Linked DNA regions of Homo sapiens: all the other regions are reported to be linked to region 3. Evidence: microRNA targets listed by miRTarBase, many of them from high-throughput screens and not tested one by one. Region 3 holds a microRNA gene; each other region holds the end of a gene's coding sequence.

Region 1 (6,562 bases), not on the chromosome of region 3:
TCGGCTGCGCCTGCCAGGTAAGACCACCACCGAGTCATATGGTACATTTTTGCCACTCTTCTTGGCGGACTCACCTGGAGATTCTCCTCCTCAAAGTTATGTATTGTAAGCATTGGGAAGTGGAGCCAGGACAACTTCTTGAAGGGTCATTCTCCACTTTGGGTTCTAAGACTGCCTCATATTGGGAATAGAGGGAATGCTGGAGTGTATCTGATTTTCTTTTGCAGGCAACTGTTGGAATTGACTTCTTGTCTAAGACCATGTACTTGGAGGACCAAATAGTGAGTGTTAACTCTCATACCACTAACCCTACACTTCAACCCCTTAGGCCTATTCATCACAGTTGGGTAGCACCATCAAAAAAAACTGAAGCCTCTTCAAATTACCAAGCCCTATGATGTTTCTTGTTCTGTCTGCCTTCATCTAATCTCCAACTGTAACATAAAGTCCAAGAGACCTTGAATCCTTAAATCTGCTGTGCTGTAGGGTCTTCCTGAATCAAAACAGTATATTGAAATTGGTTGGACCTGTCCTAGGACTATAGGCCATTTGGTCTGAGGCTATAGCAGCCACTTCTCAGGGATCCAGTCTACCTGACCTTTTGTATTCTGCCTTTATTAGGTTTGAGCTTTTTAAAAAGGCTAGTTTCTTGTCTACCTTTCCCCCATCTTCTTCCTAAACATTTTTATGCAGGTTCAGCTGCAGCTATGGGACACAGCTGGCCAGGAGCGCTTTCACAGCCTAATTCCTAGCTACATTCGTGATTCAACTATTGCAGTGGTTGTCTATGACATTACAAGTGGGTGTTATGCAATGTTTTATTTGAAAAGGGGATTATAAAGGGATTGATAGGGAGATTGACAAAATTAGCAGAGAGGAAGTGTTCTCTCCAAATCTCTCCTAAATGTTTCAACGCTCTGGAACATATTCTCTTGCAGACATCAATTCTTTTAAGGAGACAGATAAGTGGGTAGAACACGTGCGAGCAGAAAGAGGTGACGATGTTGTCATCATGTTGTTGGGTAACAAGATTGATTTGGATAACAAAAGGTAAAGTATAACTACAACTTCTTCTGGCATACCTAAAATTCAGTCTCTATGGGGAGGGTCAACTGTCCTCTATTTACTTGGGGAGGAGTTACCTTAGTCCCCTCTGCCCCCTACCAGCACTGCAGGATGGGAAGGACAGGGGGGCGTCCCATCAGGGCACAAGGATATGTTGGGGGTATAGGAGAGAGTCCCCACCCTGTAGTCAGAAGGGTCATGGGTTTAAGGCTTCTAGGGTTCCTGGCCCTAGGTAAGCATCATTACACCTCAGAAGAGTCTATCCATATCCAATAACTCTGGCCCTTTTCATCATTTCTGATTCGTCCAGACAAGTCACTGCAGAACAGGGTGAAGAAAAATCCAGAAACCTCAATGTGATGTTTATTGAGACCAGTGCCAAAACCGGTTACAACGTGAAAAAGGTAATACTTGTTTCTTTCTATGATACTTTAATTGTGCTCTGTCTGTAGCTACTACTACTGTTTACTCTTTTGGATAAGCTTGGCTTATCTTTTGTGGGATAGGGGTCAAGGTTCATCTCCCCATCATGTATCTCAAAGGCCCTGAATTATCCTAGCCTCTGAACCTGACCTTTTTTTTTTCCCCTTTTTTTTTTTTTGGTCCCCATTCACACACACACACAGCTGTTCCGGCGTGTGGCTTCTGCCCTTCTTTCCACAAGGACTTCACCTCCACCAAAAGAGGGGAGTATCCTTTTTCCTAGCTTTGCTGGGGTAGGGAGTATACAAGTAGAGAAGGTAAGTTTCCTTGCTGAGTTGATGCCTGAGTGGTACCTAAGGGGAAAATGGGACTAACTTTAGCCCAAAGTAGTTCCTTCGTTTGCCTTTAGGTGAGAGGGATTGTAAGATCAGAATTCCTCTTCTACATCTCCTAGAAGCTGACCTTGGGTGTTAAGATTTGACTCCAGTCACCTCACTGTATTAGCTTCCTTGACACACACTTCAGCGGTTGAAATCGAACTGGAATCCTTCGAGGAGTCAGGCAACAGAAGCTATTGTTGACAGCTTAGGCTTTCTCTGCCTCATTTGATGGATTTCTTACATTTGGGCTTGCCATACCAGTTCTCCTCCCCACCTCGTTTTATGATACATGGCCACTTACTCTCTTCCAATTCCTAGGCTTGGGGTAAAAACAGAACCCCTGAAAGTGCTATCATTTTTTCCTGACCGCATCTCACAGCTACTGGGTGGAAGCTTCTTGCAGCACCTGGGAATTCTACCTTACCTTCTCCGACAGCTAAAAGACATCTGTAGAGAATACAGTTCTACAGCAGCTGACATACTTCAAAGGCCAATACAATTCATTCTCCACTGTTTGTTGTTGTTTACCTACACCCTCAATAAATGGTTCTTTAACCTAAGGCTGTTATTGCTTGTGCTTTCTCCACACTATACCTATATTTCCACAATGCAATTATCTCATGTTGGTGCCCTAACATAGAACCAATCCAAGTATTTCAAACAAGAACCAATTTAAGGCAGGAGGGTTTTTGCCTCTTAGGCCCATGGCACCTGGCTGGGACTTTTTACCATGTTTTTCATACTTCTTAGATACAATGTTTTAAGACCTGTTAACCACAGGAAGAGTCTTGGACCTCAACATTCAGCCAAGTCACCCAACATGCCTTTATGGAAGTAACCAAGCTACTATTTTCTTTCTTTCGTGGCCAATGCGGGGCATGGGGTCAGCAAATAGGAGGATAGAACAGGATTTCCCAGGAAGCATAGGGACAGCTACATTAATTCTACCTCCAGCTCTGCTCTCAAGGGATGTTGCCACCTAACAATAGCAGTGAGGCTCTAGAAGAGGTATGTCAGTAGAGCTAGGGTGGGATATATAGGAAGAACCAGACCTTCCTCATACAGTATAGTACTACTATTTAGAACAATGTTTCCTACATTTGAAGACTTATTTACTTATTTCCTTTGCTTCTTTAAAAATCCAGATTTCCAGATTCCACCTCAGACTAACAGAATCATTGTCCAGTAGAAGGGCCTATAAATACATATTTAAGCTCCCCAGGATTCTTTCAAGGCAAATTTTGGGACTTCATCATAGGGGTACATCACCCCACACCACACTAGAAAACTCTTTTTTTTCTTTGAGACAGTCTCACTCTGTCACCCAGCCTGGAGTGCAGCGGCGCCATCTTGGCTTACTGCAACCTCCACCTCCAGGGTTCAAATGATCCTCCTGCCTCAGCCTCCCGAGTAGCTGGGACTACAGGTAGTGTCCCACCACACCTGTCTCATTTTTGTATTTTTAGTAGAGATGGGGTTGCACCTTTTTGGCCAGGCTGCTCTCGAACTCCTGGCCTCAAGCTATCCATCTGCCTTGGCCTCCCAAAGTGGTGAGATTACAGGCATGAGCCACCGCGCCCAGCCTCACACTAGAAAACTTTCAATTCCAAATGGGTATTTTAAACATGCCAGTGGCGATGGCATAGGCATGACTAGGAATCTTGTAATGGTGGATTGGTAACTAAAGATCTAGGAACATGGCAGAATGTTATTTGGGGCTGGGGTGAAGAAAAGGGAGAAGTCAGCAGTTAGCACTACTCAACTTACAAGTTGGAAACTGTGAACCAATTTCTTACTGCTGCCTCAGAAAAGAAATGCATCTAAGCCCCTTCCTTAGTTTATGTTCCAGATCAAAGAATGTGGGAAAGGAGAAGAGAGAATTATATTACTACTGTCCCCTGCAGAGAAATGCTCAAAGCTCCTAGGGGAACGGGCAGTTTCTTTCAGTGCCCCTCACTCTATGCCATTTCTTAGTTATACTGTGGTTAAAGTTCCTTGGCCTTGCTAATGTTCTGGTCAGACATCACAGGTAGTTGCGAGGAAGGTATAGTATTGCTCTGTTCCTTCCAGTGGCTCCTCTCTTTGGAAGAGCTTTTTCTTCCCTCGATAGCATTTTACATCCAATCGGTAACATTCAAAAGTCACACCAATATTTCTTCAGCATTGTGTTTTACTTTTTGGGAGAGAGGCTAGGAGGAGGAAGGGGTGAAAACAGCGTCTCACTGGAGTCTCAAAAGTGTATGAATCTTCTGGTAGTGCAAGGATGGGATAAGATGGCCAGGGAAGTCAGATGGAAAATCCCCAAGATTCTTTTTGCTACTGATTTCTATAATTAAAATATGACATATGTAAGGGACTAGTGCATGATATTCAATAAATGTCAGTTGTCTTTCCTAACTAGGTTCCTCACAGGCTAGGTTATGCCTAGATATCATCATCCTCCTTTCAGGGAATGAAGCTCACCTAGAAAACTAGGGAACTAAAAGTGCAATATGGTTTGGGTAATGCAGTTGGTTAGCTGTCTCCCCATCCTCCCAACTCACTATTCCAGGGAGGGGCTGAAAACAGAAGTGGCTCCCCTGAAGTCTAGTTAGCATGTCATGACAGAGTCCACATGAAGGGCTGTGGGCTGCAACTTTCTAGTGCACAGTCCTCTCTTTTTGGCGATGATAATCTGAAGGAAAGAAGAAGAAAAGGAGGAACAGAGCAGGTTATCTTCACGCTTGAGCTCCTGATTCCCTATCCCCAACTTGTAGGGCCTCTAGTCATCAGTATTTAAAGAGTTCTTACTTAGGGCCCTGTCAGGAAAGTGAAAAAAGAAAGTGGCACTTACTGTAGGGAAAGAAGCGCACACGCATGCTGATTTCACGAGCTGTCTTCAGGATCTCAACAGCCTGGAAGGAACACAGCAGCTTGTACAAATGAAGAGATATGACCCAAGACAGAATCATAATAGGGGGAAAGGGATTTGCCACTCCAACCTGTGTGTCACTAATAGCTGCTTCCCTCCTGTACTTTCCCAGGAGAGGTGCTTACTTTCTCTCTCTCTTTTTGTTTGTTTGTTTGTTTGTTTTGAGACAGGGTCTTGCTGCGTTGCCTGGGCTGGTCTTAAATTCCTGGGCTCAAGTGATCCTCCCGCCTCAGCCTCCTAAGTAGCTGGGATTACAGGCGTGTACCACAGTGCCCAGCAAAATGCTTTCTTATTAAGTTACAGATTAGGCTACTCCTGTCCAATCTGTCCTATTTGAGATGGCTTCTTGCAGCACCACAGCCCAAGTACTGTGCTCACCTTGCTGTGCTCAATATCTTGGAAATCCACATCATTCACAGCTAGAACTTGGTCCCCTTCCTGCAGTCCTGCTCTATGTGCATCAGAGTCAGGAATCACCTGTTGGTAAAGAGAGAATACATGTGATTGGGATGCGATAATTTCAGAAGACTGTCAGTGAAATTCGGTGCTATTCAAATGTATGGTGCTATTGTTTTTCTGTGACAATGTATGCAGACAGATGGCCTGCCAAATGAAAAGTTTTAAGTGGGAAAGGGGGTGTCTCCATTATACCCCTTCTATGAATCCAGAGTCATCCTCTCAGCCCTTGGGACATTAGGGTTCTGCAATCTGTTAATTTAACAAAGGGAAGTAACGATCCATATTGCCTACTGGGCATAAATACCTTGGAGATGAAGATGCCTAGCTGGGAGGCCTTTCCTCCTCGGATGTTAAATCCCAACTGTAAGACAAGAGCACAGAATGGGGGCTCAATGGAGACCACAAACACAAGAACAACTAGTAGCATCATCGTACAATAGCTCAGCTTGTGTGTCCCTGAGAGGAAAGTCAGAAGTTGCAGAAGTGTTATCTCAGCTTTTCTGTCCACAAGAAGGAAAGTTTCCTCACATCTGCACCTGCTTTCCAATCCATCCCCCCAACACTGCCAATTTGTGGTATGGATGAATCTAGCCTGAAATAAGGTTTCATAAGTTCACCTGAGCTCCAGGAGGCTTCTTCAGTGTGATGGTTCGGGGCAGAAACTGGGTCAACTCATTGTTGTAGTCCGGGTGGTGTACCCTCTGCAAGACACAGCAACCCCAGAAATTTTACCAGTCTTACTTCACACCTACCTTCATCTGAAACACTAATGAATTACCCTGAAGTCAGGAAAAGGAAAGGTCATAGACTTAATTTAAGTAGAACAGATAACACAGACTAAATGAGTAGATGGATAGCACTGGGGCAGCCCAGTAGCTCCCCATTTCTTCACCTTTTTTTTTTTTTTTTGAGATGGAGTTTTGCTCTTGTTGCCCAGGCTGGAGTGCAATGGCTCAATCTCAGCTCACCGCAACCTCTGCCTCCCAGGTTCAAGCAATTCTCCCGCCTCAGCCTCCCTAGTAGCTGGGATTACAGGCATGTGCCACCACGCCCGGCTAATTTTGTATTTTTAGTAGAGACGCGGTTTCTCCATGTTGGTCAGGCTGGTCTCGAACTCCCAACCTCAGGTGATCCGCCTGTTTCGGCCTCCCAAAGTGCTGGGATTACAGGCATGAGCCACCGCGCTGAACCTCTTAACAGTATGGAAATGAAGGCTCCAAATTTCCAGAATTAACCGGTGTGAACAGACCCTAGCAGGAGGCTTCCATAAAGAAGTTCCCAATGGGTCCTGTTGCTCAGAATCCAGCTTCTGGGTCCTCTGGCT
Region 2 (3,000 bases), not on the chromosome of region 3:
TCTGGGGTGGAGAAAATAACCTGAGGCGTTTGCCCATGTCCTCTGGATACTCGCTGGGCCGGTGGCTGAGGGGTGGCTGTTGTGTGAGGCTGGGCCCAGATGGAGAGCTGACCGGAAGTAGAGTATCTGTGTCCCTCGGGAAAGTTCCTTTCCTCTTCCTCTCCCGTGGCCCTTACCCCAGTGGCAGACAGGTCAGGACGTGCTAGGGGGCTGGTTCTTGAGCATCTCACTCTACTGATGCTAACACCTCACTTCCCACAACATATCCCTGCTGAGAACTAGTCACAGGCCCCAGGAGTAAGTGCTGGGCTGAAGGGTGGTCCAAACCCTACAGCAGGGAGCAGGAGTACAAATCAGTTCACATGTCTAAAGGCTGGGACCTGAACAGGGGAGTCCCTGAAACACTGGACTGACTCACCTGGACTGAGGTCAGGGCAGCCTTACTCTGCCGCAGTCACACTCAAGACTACACATGCGCGTGTGGGCACTGGAACTAAAATCCGGGTTGAGAGGCTGGGCCTGATATTTTGTGGCTAGAAGGGCCCCACATAACTCAGGTCCAGGGAGGTGAGTGACCTGCCCAAGACCACAAGGCTGTCAGTGGCCGAGCTAAGGACTGAGGCTCCTTCAACTCCAGGTTACCTTGCTGCCTTCTCAGGAGAGTGAAGAAAACGACTCCCTTCTCAGAGGAAACAGTCGTGTGCTTATCTGGACAGGGCAAGATTACACTTAAAGATGAGGGCTGTGAAGCCAGGCGTAGCAGCTCACGTCTTAATCCCAGCACTTTGGGAGGCCAAGGCAGGTGGATCACTTGAGTCCAGGAGTTCGAGACCAGCCTGGCCAACATGGTGAAACCCTGCCTCTACTAAAAATACAAAAATTAGCCGGGCGTGGTGGTGTGCGCCTGTAGTCCCAGCTACTCAGGAGGCTGAGGCAGGAGAATCTCTTGAACTGGGGAGGCGGAGGTTGCAGTGAGCTGAGATCACGCCACTGCTTGGGTGACACAGCAATACTCCATCTCAAAAAAAAAAAAGATAAAAAGATGAGGGCCATGGCTGCTGAGTTCCATCATCCACAGTTCAGAGCCCAGGTGGTGGTGAATAATCCACACTAGATTGACTTCTGGGATTCCTGGATTCTTTCACCACTGGGTTCCCTTGACCCGGTCATGCATCTTCACCAGCCTAGCCTACTTACTGAGATTTAGTAACTGCACTGGACTAGGACACCAGTGCCTGGTTGTTGAGCTCAACTTCATCTCTCTGCTTGTTGAGTCACTGGACAAATCCTCCTTATCCTCTTGAATCTACTCGTCCACGAGACACAGGGGAAGATCCTCCCTTCCCTGAGAGGACCCAGAGCCTTAGGTGTCTTTGTGTCCCTACCAACTGAAAAGAACTCAAGACTTTCATAAAGAGGAAACCATTATCAGACTCTCCTACACATTTGTCATCATTAAGTAAGTTCCCAAGAGGAACAGAGTGACCCATTTGGCTGGGCAAAGCAAGAGCAAACGTCTTGAGAAATTTGAGCTCCTCATGCCCTTCCAGTCCTGCTCAGGTTCCAGGTTAGTTTTCTTCTCTAGGCTCCTTCCCTGGGCTCAAATTCTCAACTACTGTGGGTGGAGGGTTTGTGGAACGCTGCAGACCAGAGTTCCTCCCCTCTGAAGGCCTGTGTAGGGTTATCTGAAGTGTTTCCACCCAGAGTGCAGGAAAGAAACTCTGTCCAAGGGGCAAGGGGCAGCAAGTTCCGCAGGCACCCATGAGAGATGCCCAACACATCCCTGAAGAGCAAAGTTACAGCAGAATGTGAGGGAAGAGCCAGCGAGAGAGGTGCTCATGTTCTCACGCCCCAGCCTAGCCCAGCCAAGTGCTCACGGCCTGCACCTGGCAGTGCTGATGGTCTGTCCGTACCAAGGAGATGTGGGCTTGAACTCTGAGGTACGAAGACTACAGGTGGAGACGAGGAAAAGTGAGAAGGTAACTTCAGAGGAGACAGCAGGGTTGAATTGAACAGGAAAAGATCAAAAGTACAGCCAGAATCCCACTTGGTCTTTTTTCCATTCTCCTTTATTCCATAAACACCTAGTTACAAGTTGCACAAATCAAAAAATAAAGGCAGAGAAGGGTGTAGGGAAGATTCTTTTGATGTGTGTGGGCAGGAGGAGGGAGAGAGTTAGGAACCAGTCTGCTCCTTCCACAGCCCTAGATAGGGCTACGGCCCCTCAGTGGGGGCTCTGAGGAAGAGGTGGGCAAAGATCCAGGGTAGCTGAGGGATGGAGGGGGCCCCTAAACCCAGAGCTCACCCCAAAATGCATTGACCCTTCAATGCATGGCAGGAGTAGGATGGGAAAGGTGAGGGGGTTTGAAGATGGAGTGGCAGAATGAAAAATCAAGTCAGTAGATGCAGAGGCGAAGTCATCAATGGTAAACCAGGAGATTAAAGAAGGAAAAGGTAGGGAAAGGGTGCCGTGAAAGGTTCTCCCTGAGACCCCCAGGGAGAGGTGGGGGCCGGCTTGCCTGTTAATTTAATATTAAATTGGGGATGGGAATCGAGAGGAAAAAGTTATTCAGGGGATGATTTCTCAGCCTCTCAGCCTGTACCTGGAGGGGGAAAGAGAGAGGAGCACAAGTCAAAAGGAAGAAAAAACTTACGTTAAGAGCCAGGAGTTGGGGTTTAATCCCCTATGTCAGTGAGAACATTGTTCTCTTTCCATGTCAACTTGTACTACCAAAGGCAGCTCCTGCGGGAGCCTGAACTGAGCCTGCCTTGCAGCCGAGGACCGTCCGCAGGTGCACCCCACCCTCCTTACTCCTGATACTTACAAGAGAGGCTGAGGGCCCGGGGCCCTCACCAGTCATAGCGGCGGGACTGTCGGGAAGGGGAGTCCTCAGGTCCCTGGATGGCCAGGCGGGGAGGCCCCTCCGCCCTTCGTCCCCCAGCCCCTGAGGACTCAAGCCGCCGAAACTCCAGGGGACGCTGCTGCCGGAATCGGGAGGT
Region 3 (6,562 bases):
CCTCCTCCTGCAGAGAGCCCCCGCTGCCCCAAGGAGAGCAGGCCTCACAGTGCCACCCACTCCACAAGAATGCAGAGCTCAGAACCTTTACATCGGGCTCCTGTTTGCAGGAACGGCTCCAGGCCTGGCTGACAAGGGCTGTGAGCCTCTCTGGCCTCCACCACCAGCCTTTCCTGGGAATCCCAGGCCGGGGTAGTGGAAGATTCTCAGAGCAGCCGAGGCGCCCTCCACACCAGCCCTGGTGTGCACTTTCTACAGCCATCATGCCAACACGTCCTGCAGCCTTCGCCCACCCAGAGTTCATTTCCTCCCATTTGGGGTAACTTCACCACCCCAGGTCACTGGACAGGACCGAAGGTCACCAAAGGTCATCCCGGAACACCGCAGGTCACCTTGGCTCTCAGTGCTTCATCCAGAAACCTGAGTCTACCCCCCATACCCGTCTACCGAGCCGCCAGGGCTTATGTTGTGCAAACGCTGCGCCCTCTGAGACAGGGGCTCAAATGTTCAACATACCCTTTAGGTGTTTGCGGAAAGGATGAGCTCAAAGACGCCTGCCTCTAGGTAAACGGAGCTGCCCTTGCACATGTGATGATAAGGAAAAGCAAACGAAGGCTGCCTTTGAACGGCCTTTTTGCTCCACCAGCTCCCAACCTAAAGCTGCCTTTGCAGTCGTGAACTGTGGGGGGATGGGGGCGTGGAGGTGGTGGGGGAAGGACAGTGGCCACTAGCACCCTGGCCCTTTGAGAAGGGTCCTGCCCACTTCGCCCTGCCAGGCCTCGGTTTCCCCCCTGCAAAAACAGGAAAGTTGATATTCATGCCACAGGCTTGCTCTGAATACAGACTAAAACAGACTATTTTCTTTTTATTTATCTTTTTTTGGGACGAGATCTCACTTTGTTGCCCAGGCTGGAGTACAGTGGTGCAATCATGGTTCATTGCAGCCTCAAACTCCTGGGCTCAAGCAATCTTCCTGCCTCGGCACCCCAAGTAGCTGGGACTACAGGCGCTTCCCACTACATCAAGTTTTTTTGTTTGTTCGTTTGTTTTTTAAGAGACAGAGTCTCTCTATGTTGCCCAGGCTGGTCTGGAACTCTCAGATTCAAGAGATCCTCCTACCTCAACCTCCCAAAGTGCTGAGGTTACAGGCATGAGCCACCACTCCTGGCGACAGACTATTTTCTAAAAGCCTCACACGTTACCCAACTAAATAGGGATGTTGAGGGTCAAGGTCCAGGGCTGGGGAGGTGGAACTCTGGAGTAGGGAGCACAGGGAACATAGGCAGGGAGGCCAGGCCAGGCACACTCAGAAGAGGCTGCTTCAAAATACACCAGCAGAGCATTTGCACCTTTAGCCTGAGTTCTGGCAACTTTAAAAGACAATTCCAGATTGTCTTACTTATCCATTCATTCATTCCATTCAGGAAGTACTTCCTGGGTGCCTAGGGCTGGCATTATTTTACATGCCAATGGCTAGGGATAAAATGACAAGTGATGGGTCAAGCTCCCTGCCTCACTGAGCTCAGAGCCAACAAGGGAGCTGAGCTGCACACCTACTGTGTTCAGGCTGCACTCTGCATGCCTCTGCTTAGATGTTAGATGGCTAGCTTGCTCAGCCCAGGCCCTGAGAGTGAGTGAACGCTCTCCCTGGGAAGATGAAATGAGAAGTAAGACGCTGTCATTTAACCACAAGAGAGAGCCCGTGGAGGTTTGGGATGCCCAGGAAGAGCTGGCACCTCTCACTTCGGTGGGAGCATCAGGAATCTGGGCCCATATCCCCTCCCGAGAGTCTGGCCTTATGTACATTTCCCAGAAATTCTCACTGTTTATACTGAGGGGCCTCCCCGGAGCAGAAGTCATTCAAATCCTGTTTTCAGCTGTAAGTCACTTCCTGCCTAGCTTAGGGCACAGGCATCTCAGAGCATTGAATGTATGGCCACGTGGCCACCCCAGAGATCCAAGCAAAACTGTCTGGTTGCCCAGCCTCAGCTGTTCCTGAAAGGCTTGAGTGTGCAATCCCGGTCCCCTGCTTTGGAGTTACACAAAGGGCCCTCCCGTAAGCCCTGAACAGCAGGCATGACTCAGGCCCAGACTTAGGGCTGGTTTCCACAGCCCATACCGGGGCCCTAATTTGGAGAAATCTGAGTGGACCTAGGCTGAAGATCCCCCCTGAGGAGGTCAGGAAGTGGCCAGGGGACCTTATATAAGCTGACCTCTCCCACCAGGCTGGGCAGGAGGCTAGGGTGAGTGTAGGGGCAGGAGGTAGAGGGAGGAAGATGAGGGGAGAAGGTGAACGGGCTAAGGTCTCCAGCGCTCCCTGGTGAGACCTCTCCAACTCCCGTTTCGGTAACCGCTTCTCTGGCAGGGGTTTCCGCAGGCCTGCCATCCTGACCAAAGGGGAAGAGCACGTCCACCTGGAATGGGAAGGCTCCCTCCTGCCCATCCCAGGGCCACAGAAATGTGGACCTGGAAGGGGTAAGAAGGCAGGCGCTAGCTCCATCTCCCACATCCCAATCATAGCATCTCAAATTATACATGTAGCATCATGGGGCTTGTTTAGAACATAAGGTAGTACTTCCTGGAGGGAAAGGCTTGAAATAAGCAACCCCAAATGAACAAGGCAAAGATGTAACAAGGGCCTGGAACCTGGCAGCCATGCTGACTCTGCGTGTGCCATGTCCTCCCTGGTGAGTGATTGGGCCAGGAGAAATGGGGGTCCTAGGCCTATGGGTCAGACACCCCAATGAGAAACTATTTTGGCTCCAAGGAGCCCCTAGCCACACAGCTCCAGAAACCTGGGAGACGCAGGGCAGCCCACGGTCACTCCGGCTTCATCCCAAGTCCTTGTGTATTCTGTGAATTGGGAGCCTGAAGGCACAAGAACCATGGGAGGGTATGCGTTTGACCAGAAGGTAGGAAGGAAGCAGCTTAGCCTACAACCCTTCTGGGGCACCTCCTGGGCCACCCTCTGCTTTACAGCTTAGACCTCTGGGGAAGGGGGTTGGGCACTCGGCGGAAATCATCACTCATTTGCATAGTGAAGTCTATGCCGTACCTAGGTCCCAAATCCAGGGGAAGGCAATGCACGGCAGAAACGGGGTTTGAATGACTTCTAGGAGCCCTTTGTGCCAAGTCGAGATGGCCTCATCCCCACAGCCCACATTCCTGGCAGGCTGGGTCAGGGATCCCTGGGCCAGAGATCTGAGATCAGCCTGGCCAGCAAGCCCCCAAGTAAAAGTTTATGCTGAACAGAGCACAGAAGCCGAGCTGTGTTCCCTTAGGTCAAGATTTTCACACTTGAACTCACGTTCCCTTTAAATAAAGTGGAAACTCCCCATCTCTGCCACTCTACACCAAGATTCAAATCCCCCCAGCATGACCGTGTGCTGAGGCTGTGTTTGCTTTAGGCCCTCACCCCGCTCAGGCTAGTTCAGTTTTGTGACTATCTAGCACCTCTCACCCCCATCCTACAGCCTGGGGTGGCTCGGGAGCCACCTGGTCTGAGGAATGGCTGGATTGGGAGGGACCATATCAAAATATTCCTGCGGGACTACTGTTAGTTCCTTAAGATACCATTAGAAGGCCACCCCATCCCACGAAGCTTCTCTCATCAACTTTACACTATGTCTGCAGTCTAACTAGGTGTGACTTCTCGGTTGGCATTCTGGCAATATGTACCCAGCATTTCAATGCACACGAGTCTCAGCCCAGACATTCACTCCTAGAAATTGTCCCTGCAGAAATACTTGCACAGCGCAAAGAGACACAGAGCGACAAGGACATCCGGCACAGCGTTATCAGTCTGCAAACTGAGTACAGCATTTAGCATGCACTTAGTATGTGCCAGGCAGGGTTTGAAGAGCTTTTTATCCTTATTAATAGCTCATTTAATCTTCACCCAAGAGGTAGGTCCTTGACCATGCCCGCTTTACAGATGAGGAAACTGAGGCACAGATCTACCCAGCAAGAAGCAGGCCTGGCATCTGCGCCAGGAGGCATCACCCTGCTGAACTGGATTCACAATCCTTCCATCCCCTTTGCCTGCTGGGAGGGCAGGGACACTGGAAAGTTCAGGATGTTGAACTGAGTTCTTGGCCACACGGATAACAGAGAACCCCAAAGGAAGCTGGGGTGTCATCTGCGCACAACCTCCCGATTGGAAAGTTAGCATTCTCCCTTCAGTTGTGAGAAGGCTCATAAGCCCCCCCCAAAACACACACACACACTTGTCCCAGGTTAGGGGCATCACCGTATCCTAGCCGCTCTCTGGTGTACACGGCTCAATGCAGAAATCACAGTTCGAGGTGACTCTCCGCAGAGGAGCTGGGTCTTGCAGCCTCTCAGTTTCCCTAACTCGGGAGAAAGTCTTGTGGCAGCTTCCATTCAAACTCTTCATCAAACACCCAGGGGGAGCATGCCATTCCAGACCCACTGCCACAGGAATCATGGTGGGACACCGCAAATCACAGCACAAAGATCATCAACATCAACCCCACAGTGAGGGCCACAGGGTGCCTGTGCACTACCAACCATGGGACCTCGGGGCCACGGGGCAGCAATAGTGAATCCTGCTGAGCCACAGGAGAGCAGACTGGCAGGCCCCGGTGCACCGGCCGTGGCCCACCGCTGGCTTGAAATCACTGATAGGTGGTAAAAATAAATTTTAAGAGGAGTCCCGAACTAGTAGCACGGGGAACCCTAAAGAGCCCTGCTCTCCACTGGATGGAGAGCTGACTCTTCCCAGGTCCCAGGAGGCAACACCGACTTTGCTGAGTCCCAAGCCTATCATGGGCTTTCCCACCCAGCCTGGGGCAAGAAGTGGAATACGCTTAGCCCAGGCAGTGGATGGAAGCAAACTCCCCCAAGGAAGGTGGTATTAGTCTCCCTGGCCATTCCCAGTTGGAGTTGATTTGTTCCTTTAAGAAGGGGAAGGATTCTCGAGCACTGGAGTTTTCAGGTCCCCTCCCAGTCTTGAAAGTTTACATCCCCAAGTCCCCTTTTCATTTGCTCAAAGAGTACATGTGGCTGGCAAGAAGTGCTCGAGAGGCTTCAGGCAGTCTTGGAGTGGATTCTGCAGGTGCCAAGCCTCCTCAAGACCCAGAGATCCTAAAGCCCAGTCTTCAGTCCTCAGAGTCAGAGGATAGAGATGGACAGGACTTCAGCCTCAGCCCTCCCGCAAAACAGAGTCATTTGCAAACTTTCAAGACTGGGAGGGGACCTGAAAACTCCAGTGCTCGAGAATCCTTCCCCTTCTTAAAGGAACAAATCAACTCCAACTGGGAATGGCCAGGGAGACTAATACCACCTTCCTTGGGGGAGTTTGCTTCCATCCATTGCCTGGGCTAAGCGTATTCCACTCCTTGCCCCAGGCTGGGTGGGAAAGCCCATGATAGGCTTGGGACTCAGCAAAGTCGGTGTTGCCTCCTGGGACCTGGGAAGAGCCAGCTCTCCATCCAGTGGAGAGCAGGGCTCTTTAGGGTTCCCTGTGCTACTAGTTCGGGACTCCTCTTAAAATTTATTTTTACTACCAAATCCTCCCCAACAGAGCTTCCATCCTCCACTTTTACAGATGCCTCAAGAGAGGTTTACAGAGGCCCAGAGACTTGCCCCAGCTCTGTATGGGAGCACTGAGATAGTGCCAATCTGGCCATCCAGGTCATTCTCCTCCTTCCACTGCCCCAAGGGAAGTGACCAGCTTGAGAAGGAGACATTAAGAGGACAAGTAGGCCCAGCACCGGGGCCCTGCCATGCCGGGTCCTGTAGCGTCATCTCTCTCCTGCCATCACTGGCAACAGATCAAATGTCAAAGGTCAAAAGGAAAAGGCTCCCTCAGGGCTAACCACTCAGATACTTCCTTTTCTTGCTTCAAACAGAGGACAAGATCCACCCTTTTTGACACAAACAAGATGACAAAGAGCTCAGGGAAGGTAGGGCAAGTCAAGGGCGGAGGAGAATTCTTCAAGCTATGACTTCTCCCCGAGAGAGACACCACTGTCCCAAAAACCTCATCCCACTGAGACAGTTGCTTCAGGGGCCACAGAACCAAGGGGTCCTCTGCCCAGTGAGCTCGGGTCTTCCCAGCCTCTTCTGTCTCCTGACAGCCTTGCTGCTCTCCCCTTTGGAAAAGCAAGATCCACAGTTCTGTCCAGTGGCGGGGAACAGGAATAACTCATTCTCCTCCTCAGACAACACACAGCTTGAGCCCCTGCACCTTTTGATCCAGGAAACAATCAATATGTATCTCATGGCGATGGAGCTGCTCCAGACAAAAGTGTGCATGTGCGTTATACGTGTGAGTGTGCGTGTGGCCATGGCGCGCTCTTGTGTGTTGGAATGAGAATGAGGCTGGGGCTGCAGTTTATGATAGCTCAGGGTTGCGCCTGCAGAAGTACCACACCCACCTAGTCCTCAATGATAGGACCCCCAGTCTCCACCACCTCTGCTCAAACAGCTCAGAGAGCGCAGAAGCGGACCTGGGCATGGGAGGTGCCGCCCTTCCCACTTCTGTCTCCACCATCCCCCACCATTGGCCTCCAGCAGGGATTCCTTGGGCTGAGTTCTG
Region 4 (3,000 bases), not on the chromosome of region 3:
TAAAAAAAAAAGCTTTATGGAAAACTGTGACAGGCCATATACAAATGTGAGGTATTCATCACCCAAAGATGCCATTTGCTGAGCAACTACTAAGCGCTAGGCACGTGCTGGACGCTTTGCCTAAATCAGTATGTCACCACCACAAGAGGCCTTCCCTGACTACCCTGTTAAAGTAAATCCACTCCTCTCCCCACTCGCTAGTTATTCTCTCACGTTCCCTGTTTTTTCCTTCTTACTACTCCTTGTAATTTATGATGTTTTTGTGTGCTTTTTCAATCCTCTTCCACCAGACAGACTATTAGCTTGCCATGAACAGGAGTCATGTGGGTGAGCTGATGGCAGTCTATCCATACTAAGCACAGTGGCTTGTATCCAGTAGTTACCCAAATCCTTGTTAGACAAACACAGCCACGGAGCTGGAGGCCAGTCCAAACTGGCCTGTTTATCTTCCAAGTCAAGTGAGACTCAGCCTTCCCTGCCCACCCCAGAGCAATATACAGCTGAGAGTCTACGCCCCACCCCTCGAGCCTTAACATAGCAGATAAATTAATGATCTCTTTTATAAAACATTGTACAGGGAAAATACATACATAGAGAGCTAGTGCTGGGGCTGGGGTGGGATTTGCTTCTTGAACACAGATAACCAGACCCTACCCCATCAGGGTGGCTGGCCTTGGTAATCTGGGCATCCACCCACCCCTGCACTTTCTTCCCTAAAGTGGCTCACCTGCTGTCCTGACAACCAGCCTCGGCTGGTTACCACAAATAATAAAGGTCCAACATCTTCCCCCCAAAGGGAACTACTTTCTGGCTGGCCCCCACCAGCCTGCTCCTCTGAAATGGGCACTCTCCAGTCCTTCCTTCTTACTGAGGCAGCCCACCTTGACCTGGTCCCAGGAATTTGGCCCACCAGTACCTGAAGATAGGGAAGCAAGACCAAGGAATATTGTTTCCTGATATGTTTGGTGATCACAGCATCTAAACCAGGACTTTTTTGAAAAGTGGAAGGGGGTCTAATTCACTGGAAAACAAGCATAAACCTGGACTGCCCAGGCAAAGGACACGTGGTCACCCTACTGATAGGTCTCCCCTGCTCCTTTTTTTTTTTTTTTTTTTTTTTTTGAGACGAGTCTCGCTCTGTCGCCAGGCTGGAGTGCAATTGTGCAATCTCGGCTCACTGCAACCTCCACCTCCTGGGTTCGAGCGATTCTCCTGCCTCAGCGCCCCGAGTAGCTGGGACTACAGGCGCCCACCACCATGCCCAGGTCATTTTTTTATTTTTAGTAGAGACAGGGTTTCGCCATGTAGGCCAGGATGGTCTTAATCTCTTGACCTCATGATCCACCCGCCTCAGCCTCCCAAAGTGCTAGAATTACAGGTGTGAGCCACCATGCCCAGCCAGGTCTCCCCTGCTCTTAACTGGCCCAATCCTAGCACTCTTTTTTTTTTTTTTTCCGTATTTTTAGTAGAGATGGGGTTTCACCATTTGGGCAGGCTGGTCTCGAACTTCTGACCTCAAGTGATCCACCGGCCTCGGCCTCCCAAAGTGCTGGGATTACAGGTGTGAGCCACCGCGCCCAGCCAACCAATCCTACCACTCTTGACTTTCCCAAACACATTCCCCAACAGCAGCAAGCTTCTTCAGACCTCCATTCCCATCTCTGCTGCCTCCACTCTCCAAGGCTTTCTAGCATCTTAAGGCATCAAGAGTATTGGTGACTTGTAGTATCAGTGTTAGGAAAAATGCCTTCTCCAAATCCCATATGAGACCTGGCCATGTAAGGCCCCTAGTGTCAAGCCTAAGACTCATGGCTCCTTGGGCCCAGTCCCCAAAATCAGGGCTGCACAGGTCTGAATAGCAAAGCCAGGCTTAACCTTGTTTCCCATCCTAAACTTGCCAAGTGTCCTCTCTCTAGGCCTCCCTGTAGCTAAGGGCTAGGGCCAAGGAAAAATGAACCATCAATCTCCCACCTCTGCCCTTGGCCAATGCAAAGGGCTTCCATTCCACATGTGGGAGCTTCACTCCCCACCCCACACATGGTCCTTCTCCACATGTTATACATACACATTCCTGGTCCCACCTCAATGCGGCTAGGAACCCCAGGTGTCCACTCTTGCTTGGGATGGCAGGTGATGGAGGCTAAAGATCTCCCTTCGGTGCCCTGCACACCCACCAGACAGAGCTGGGCCTCAGCCCTTTGCAAGGGCCTGACAGGCAATCACAGCTATCTCGATGGGTTCCAGTTCAGTCAGTGCCCCACCCCTTGCTTTCAGAACCTGCTCAGTAGGCCGTGCTTGTAAAACTGTTTTAAATAACTCTTGCTAAAGCAGATAGTACCAGAGAGCAGAAACTCAGCGCCCAGGTCCTTAATGGTTCCTTCTCTCTACCCTCCTTCCCCTCCCACCCCCCACGTGTAAACAGTCCACAGTCACACCAGCGCTTTGGGAAACAGAAGCCCACTCTCGGTCTTCCTGGGCCACTGCTTCTCATCGTTGGTCTTTGGGGATCAAAGACTCCTCTGTGTCTGAGTCAGGTCGCCCAACACCTGCTGTGTACCTCCCACCCCCCACAAGAAACAAGTGCCCAGATCCTTAAAGACACAGTTTGTTGGAGTAGAGCTAAGAGAACCCCTGGCTCAGGAGGTGGCTTTCCGATGGGCCCCTGAGCAGACATAGGAGATGGGATGGCGGGTCCCAGGCCTCACGGTGAACGTGTTGATGGGGCTTCCATAGCGGGTGGTGGTGTAGGGAGACCTGGGGGAGAGCAAGAGATGTGAGGTGAATATCTGCAGCTGGTTAGCCAACACGTCTCTCATCTCCCCGAGGGACCGAGAGGAAAAGATGCTGCTCATACTTCTGTATTTGCCCCGACAAGCCCTGGGCTTATCGACCCCAGGGAGGGACCGCAGACATCACAAACAGGGCTCCCATTCTGGTCTGGGCCCTGCTGGCCGGAGAACATGCCTAACAGCCTTTCACTCAGAACTCTTTCACTCCTGG
Region 5 (6,427 bases), not on the chromosome of region 3:
CATGGTGGTGCACACCTGTAGTCCCAGCTACTTGAGAGCCTGAGGTGGGTGGACAGCTTGAGTCCAGGGAGGTCGAGGTTGCAGTGAGCTGAGATTGCATCACTGCACTCCAGCCTGGGAGAGAGAGTGAGACCGTCCCTGAAAACAAGGTGTGGGGGAGAACTCAGAAATGTTCATATTAGATTCGGCTGTCACTTGGATCTGAGAAAGAAGCGTGCCTTGGCTCTATCCTATCAGACATTGGGCCCTCCCTACATGGTGGCCCTGCACCACTAGGCAGGGTGCATCAGCCCCTCCACAACCACTTAGGAAGGTCACAGCATGGATTCGGAGCCATAATCTTCCCTGCACAGCCGCACCACAGACTGTGAATGCCTACTCTGTACCAAGTGCTTTAGTGGGCTTTTAAATTTTTCTGACAAGCCCACACTTAGAGATAAGGAGCCCAAAGCATGGAGAAGTGACTTCACTCACAAAGCAAGGAAGTGTAAAAGCTGAGTTCCAAATCCTGGCTTTAAAGCCCACTTATGCCTCCTGTCCTCTGCCTTACACCAGAGCATGGGCTGAAGTACAGTGAGACCTCTGGGAAAAGCTGACCCTCTGCCCAAAGCCAAGACACAAAGCCTTCAGGCTGCCCAAGCTCCACAATTCCTACCAACAGCGCCGACCACTGCCCTCAGCTTCAAGCTCCCAGCAGCTTCAGATGATCTTCCTGGAACACACCCTGGCGAGAAGTCAAAAGTGGCATTTAATAACTGACTCAAGCAATGATGGTGTGGACCCTTTCCAATACTTCTGATCAATGAGAAACAAGTGTCTTTGATGACACCTTAAAACCCTTCCCTGAAGTTGGCTAATGTCTAACAGAGGGCAGATTTGGGGACAGAGATTTTTGGCAGGTAATGGTGTAGAGATAGCATTTAGTTAGTATCATCTCGACGTCTTTTGTTTCCTTTCATTTTTGGGGGTTAGAGGGGAGATAGTGTCTCACTCTGTGGCCCAGGATGGAGTGCAGCGGCATGACCAAGCTCATTGCAGCCTCAAACTCCTGGGCTCAAGGGATCCTCTCACCTCAGCCTCACAAGTAGCTGGGACCACAGGCACACACCGTCTCACTTGGCTATTTTTTTTTTAATTATTATTTATTTATTTATTGGGACGGAGTTTTGCTCTTGTTGCCCAGGCTGGAGTGCAATGGCATGATCTCGGCTCACTCCCGAGTAGCTGGGATTACAGGTGCTTGCCACCATGCCCGGTTAATTTTTTGTATTTTTAATAGACACGGGGTTTTACCATGTTGCCCATGCTGGTCTTGAACTCCTAACTTCAGGTGACCCACTCGTCTTGGCCTCCCAAAGTGCTGGGATTACAGATGTGAGCCACCACACCTGGCCTATTTTTATTTTTAGTAGAGACGAGGTGTTGCTATGTTATCCAGGCTGTGTCTTTTGGTTTTATTGCATTTCTTTTTTATATATGTATTTCTTTTTTTCTTTTTTCTTTTTTTTTTTTTTTGAGAGGGAGTTTTGCTGTTGTTGCCCAGGCTGGAGTGCAATGGCACGATCTCAGCTCATCACAACCTCCCGGGTTCAAGCGATTCTCCTGCCTCAGCCTCCTCAGTGGCTGGAATTACAGGCATGTGCCACCACGCCTGGCTAATTTCGTACTTTTAGTAGAGATGGGGTTTCTCCATGTTGGTCAGGCTGGTCTCGAACTCCCAACCTCAGATGATCTGCCCACCTCGGCCTCCCAAAGTGTTGGGATTATAGGCGTGAGCCACTGCACCCAGCCTATATATGTCTGGTTTTTTTTTTTGTTTTTTTTTTTTCTGAGACAAGTCTCACTCTGTCGCCCAAGCTGGAGTGCAGTGGCTCGATCTCCGCTCACTGCAAGCTCCGCCTCCCGGGTTCACGCCATTCTCCTGCCTCAGCCTCCCGAGTAGCTGGGACTACAGGCACCTGCCACCACGCCCGGCTAATTTTTTAAATATTTTTAGTAGAGACGGGGTTTCACTGTGTTAGCCAGGATGGTCTCGATCTTCTGACCTTGTGATCTGCCCGCCTCGGCCTCCCAAAGTGCTGGGATTACAGGCGTGAGCCACCACGCCCGGCTTTATATATGTATTTCTATATCCAATTTTTATTTATGGCAACTGATAGCAGTATTTAACTATTTCTGACAAGAATTATTAGGATCAAAGTCCACAAGTTTGAGGATTAAGTCACAGAGCTGGGAGTTACAGTTCGAATCTTGGTCCTGCCACAGCCTTGGAAAAATAAATTTTCTGAACCTCAGCTTTTCCTCTGTAAAAGTGAGATGCTGACTTAAACCAACACCTGTTCAACCCACTGATTATGAATGCAAGGGTCAAATGCCAAAATTTGAAAGTAGCAAACACACAAAAACAAGTATCACAAACAAAGATAGTTGTTTTACCACCTGGTTTTATTAACTTGCCACAGGCCCCTGAGGTAGCATCACTCCCTTAATACTTCAGTTTTATGTTATTTATTTTTTCTCTTTTTTTTTTTTTGTGTGACGGAGTCTCACTCTGTTGCCCAGACTGGAACGCAGTGGCGTGATCTCGGCTCACTGCAACCTCCACCTCCCGGGTTCAAGTGATTCTCCTGCCTCAGTCTCCCAAGTAGCTGGGATTACAGGCGTGCGCCACCACGCCCAGCTAATTTTTGTTAGACGGGGTTTCACCATGTTGGCCAGGATGGTCTTGAGCTCTTGACCTTGTGATCCACCCACCTCAGCCTCCCAAAGTGCTGGGATCACATGCGTGAGCCACCGCATCCAGCCTTATTAATTTTTTGAGACGGGGCTTGCTCTGTCACCTAGGCTGGAGTGCAGTGATGCAGTCTTGGCTCACTGCAGCCTCAACCTCCCAAGCTCAAGCAATTCTTCCACCTCAGCCTCCTGAATAGTTGGTAGTACAGGTGTGTACCATACCCGATTAATTTTTGTGTATTTTGTAATTTTGTGTATTTTGTAGAGACAGGATTTCACCATGTCGCCTAGGCTGGTCTCGAACTCCTGGACTCAAGCGATCCTCCCACCTTGGCCTCCCAAAGTGTTGTAGTTACAGGTGTGAGCCACTGCGCCGGCCATAAATTACACTTAAAAAAAATAAAAAGTATTGAGGCCGGGTGTGGTGGCTCACGCCTATTATCCCAGCACTTTGGGAGGCCAAGGCAGGTGGATCACAAAGAGTTCAAGACCAGCCTGGCCAAGATAGTGAAATCCCGTCTCTACTAAAAATACAACAATTAGCCGGACGCAGTGCCAGATGCCTGTAATCCCAGCTACTTGGGAGGCTGAGGCAGGAGAATCGCTTGAACCCAGGTGGCAGAGGCTGCAGTGAGCCGAGATCATGCCACTGTACTCCAGCCTAGGCAATAGAGTGAAACTCTGTCTCAAAAAAAAAAAAAAAAAAAAAAAAATATTGGCCGGGCGCAGTGGCTCACACCTATAATCCCAGCACTTTGGGAGGCCGAGGTGGGAGGATCACTTGAGGTCAGGAGTTTGAGACCAGCTTGGCCAACATGGTGAAACCCCATCTCTACTAAAAATACAAAAACTAGCTGGGCATCATGGCATATGCCTGTAATCCCAGCTACCCAGGAGGCTGAGGCAAGAGAATCACTTGAACCTGGGAGGCAGAGGTTGCAGTGAGCCGAAATCGTGCCACTGCACTCCAGCCTGGGTGTCAGAGTGAGACTCTGTCTCAACAACAACAACAACAACAAAAATACAATTTACCATAACCTAGCTAAGTACCAGCTGTGTACACTAACTTACTTCTTTTCATAGAATTCTGTTTCAGGGTTACTGAAGTACAACATAACCAGAATCTATGATTCCATATAGATTTCCAGACCAGAAAATGCTTTATCCTTCCAAGCCACCTCCAGTAACTTACAATGCTCATCTGGTAAACAGGTTGTTTTACAAAAAACTTCCCTGTAACATCCCAATAGTCATGACACTGTCAATTGCCTGGTTTTGTATTTTTAATAGGGAACGAGGGCCGGGCACGGTGGCTCACGTCTGCAATCCCAGCACTTTGGGAGGCTGAGGCAGGCGGATCACCTGAGGTCAGGAGTTTGAGGCCAGCCTGACCAACATGATGAAATCTCATCTCTACTAAAAAATACAAAAATTAGCCGGGCGTGGTGGCATGCGCCTGTAATCCCAGCTACTTGGGAGGCTGAGACAGGAGAAACGCTTGAACCCAGGAGGCGGTGGTTGGGGCGAGTGCCACTGCACTCCAGCCTGGGCAACAAGAGCGAAACTCTGTCTCAAAAAAAAACTTAAAAAAATCAAAACAAAAATGTTACTTATTTATTTATTTTTTTGAGCTGGAGTCTCACTATGTTGCCCAGGCTGGAGTGCAGTGGTGCAATCTCTGCTTGCTGCAAGCTCCACCTCCCGGGTTCACGCTATTCTCCTGCCTCAGCCTCCTGAGTAGCTGGGACTACAGATGCCTGCCACCACGCCCAGCTATTTTTTTTTTTTTTTTTTTTTTGAGACGGAGTCTTGTTCTGTCGCCCAGGCTGGAGTGCAGTGGCGCAATCTCGGCTCACTGCAAGCTCCGCCTCCCAGGTTCATGCCATTCTCCTGCCTCAGCCTCCTGAGTAGCTGGGACTATAGGTGCCCGCCACCACGCCCCGGTAATTTTTTGTATTTTTAGTAGAGACGGGGTTTCACCATGTTAGCCAGGATGGTCTCGATCTCCTGACCTCGTGATCCACCTGACTGGGCCTCCCAAAGTGCTGGGATTACAGGCGTGAGCCACCGCGCCCGGCCAATTTTTTTGAATTTTTAGTAGAGATGGGGTTTCACCGTGTTAGCTAGGATGGTCTCCATCTCCTGACGTCGTGATCCACCTGCCTCGGCCTCCCAAAGTGCTGGGATTACAGGCTTGAGCCACCGGGCCCATCCACTTATTTTACTTTTTGAGACAGTCTCACTCTGTTGTCCAAGATGGAGTGCAGTGGCACGATCGTGGCTCACTGCAGCGTTGAACTCCCAGGCTCAGGTGATCCTCCCATCTCAGCCTTCCTGAATAGCTGGGACTACAGACATGGTCCAACATGTCTGGCTAATTTTTCTATGTATACATATTTTCAATTCTCATTCAACACCTTTGGTAAATTTTTGTACTTTTTGTAGAGACGGGGTTTTGCCATATTGCCCAGGCTGGTGTTGAACTCCTAAGCTCAAATGATTTGCCTGCTTTACCCTTCCAAATATTTTAGTTTTTGAGAAAGCTCTCACTATTTTACCTAAACTGGTCTTGAACTCCTGATCTCAAGCAATCCTCCTACCTCAGCCTTCCAAAGAGCTGGGAATGGCAAAAATGTTACTTATCAAAATGAAAGGCCAGGTGTGGTGGTTCACTCCTATAATCCCAGCACTTTGGAAATGCGAGGCAGGTGGATCACCTGAGGTCAGGAGTTCAAGACCAGCCTGGCCAATATGGTGAAACCCCATCTCTATTAAAAATACAACAATTTGCCAGGCATGTTGGCACAGGCCTGTAATCCCAGCTACTGAGGAGGCTGAGGCAGGAGAATCACTTGAACCTGGGAGGCAGAGGTTGCAGTGAGCCGAGATTGCACCACTGCACTCCAGCAGGCAAAACAGAGCAAGACCCTGTCTCAAAAAAAAAAAAAAAAAAAACGAGAGAGAATAGGTCATAGAATAAAAACATTTCAGCTCAAATTTTATTTAGTTAATTACTATTATTATTCTTTTTTGTAGCATCGGAGTCTTGCTATGTCACTCTAGCTGGCCTCAAACTCCTGGCCTCAAGCGATTCTCTTGCCTCAGTTTGCAAACTGCTGGGATTACAGACATCACCATGCCAGGCCACAACCCAAACTTGAAAAAGAAAATCTAAGTGGCCTTAGAAGAGTTTGCAAGTCAGCTGACCAATGTGGTACCTCCTTAAGGAGGGCCTCTGAGGCCCGATGAAAAAGGCTTATATAAAAGGCTCATGACCAGCTCTGCCAGTGATGAACATGTGTCAAGTCGTTCTGCTGTCCCCAACTCCCGGACCCAGGTGGCTCTGAATTAGCTTCAGCTAATAAAGAACAAAGACGGGGGGCAGAAAGGCTCCCCAAACTTGTGCAAATCCAGTGAGAAAACACTTTGCACATCATCTGTCTCAGCTGTTCTGCAGGTGAGGCACACTCAGAACTGCACCACCCCAGGCAAGCAGTTTGCCAGGACTCGGGGGCCTCAGGGTTTCATCTCGGGGCCTCCGCCTGCACCAGCGAGTGGGCCTGGCTCAGGGCGAGCCTGTCCTTCTTCTCCTTCTGCAAGACCTGCTCCTCCCACAGCGCCTGGTCCACCTGATCGTCGGTGAGCACGACAGGCTTGTACTTCTCATCGAAGAGCCGCTCGTTGGTCTCGGAAT

What was found. Region 3 holds the annotated microRNA hsa-miR-2392 (UAGGAUGGGGGUGAGAGGUG, at 3,451-3,470, opposite strand). A microRNA usually pairs through its seed, bases 2 to 8, with sites in the 3' UTR of a target mRNA and lowers its output. Matches are read on the target gene's strand: a 7mer-m8 pairs with bases 2 to 8, a 7mer-A1 pairs with bases 2 to 7 and ends in A, and an 8mer does both.
Region 1: miRTarBase lists PDZD11 as a target of hsa-miR-2392. Seed matches in the 3' UTR shown: 7mer-m8 at 4,129-4,135.
Region 2: miRTarBase lists MLF2 as a target of hsa-miR-2392. Seed matches in the 3' UTR shown: 8mer at 2,342-2,349.
Region 4: miRTarBase lists C6orf132 as a target of hsa-miR-2392. Seed matches in the 3' UTR shown: 7mer-m8 at 1,312-1,318.
Region 5: miRTarBase lists TIMM29 as a target of hsa-miR-2392. The part of its 3' UTR that is shown has no 7-base or 8-base seed match.

Annotation. Positions count from the first base shown.
Region 1 is chrX:70,282,575-70,289,136 of GRCh38, forward strand. It overlaps PDZD11 (PDZ domain containing 11), which reads right to left. Exons shown (of 7, transcript NM_016484.5): 3 at 5,856-5,939; 4 at 5,543-5,599; 5 at 5,158-5,256; 6 at 4,702-4,762; 7 at 4,021-4,542. The coding sequence ends at 4,508. It overlaps RAB41 (RAB41, member RAS oncogene family), which reads left to right. Exons shown (of 8, transcript NM_001363807.1): 2 at 1-17; 3 at 228-281; 4 at 694-799; 5 at 939-1,050; 6 at 1,376-1,469; 7 at 1,692-1,755; 8 at 2,014-2,428. The coding sequence ends at 2,069. Among named protein-coding and RNA genes, the nearest start is that of RAB41, 3.7 kb to the left of the region's middle.
Region 2 is chr12:6,745,945-6,748,944 of GRCh38, forward strand. MLF2 (myeloid leukemia factor 2) reads right to left here. Exons shown (of 9, transcript NM_001382226.1): 8 at 2,826-3,000; 9 at 2,052-2,603. The coding sequence ends at 2,851. Among named protein-coding and RNA genes, the nearest start is that of MLF2, 5.7 kb to the right of the region's middle.
Region 3 is chr14:100,811,459-100,818,020 of GRCh38, reverse strand. It overlaps MIR2392 (microRNA 2392), which reads right to left and starts at 3,530; the gene lies at 3,447-3,530. RefSeq lists an enhancer at 2,360-2,860.
Region 4 is chr6:42,101,125-42,104,124 of GRCh38, forward strand. C6orf132 (chromosome 6 open reading frame 132) reads right to left here. Exons shown (of 5, transcript NM_001164446.3): 5 at 1-2,754. The coding sequence ends at 2,637. Among named protein-coding and RNA genes, the nearest start is that of C6orf132, 40 kb to the right of the region's middle.
Region 5 is chr19:10,929,533-10,935,959 of GRCh38, reverse strand. TIMM29 (translocase of inner mitochondrial membrane 29) reads right to left here. Exons shown (of 2, transcript NM_138358.4): 2 at 5,706-6,427. The coding sequence ends at 6,258. Among named protein-coding and RNA genes, the nearest start is that of TIMM29, 3.9 kb to the right of the region's middle.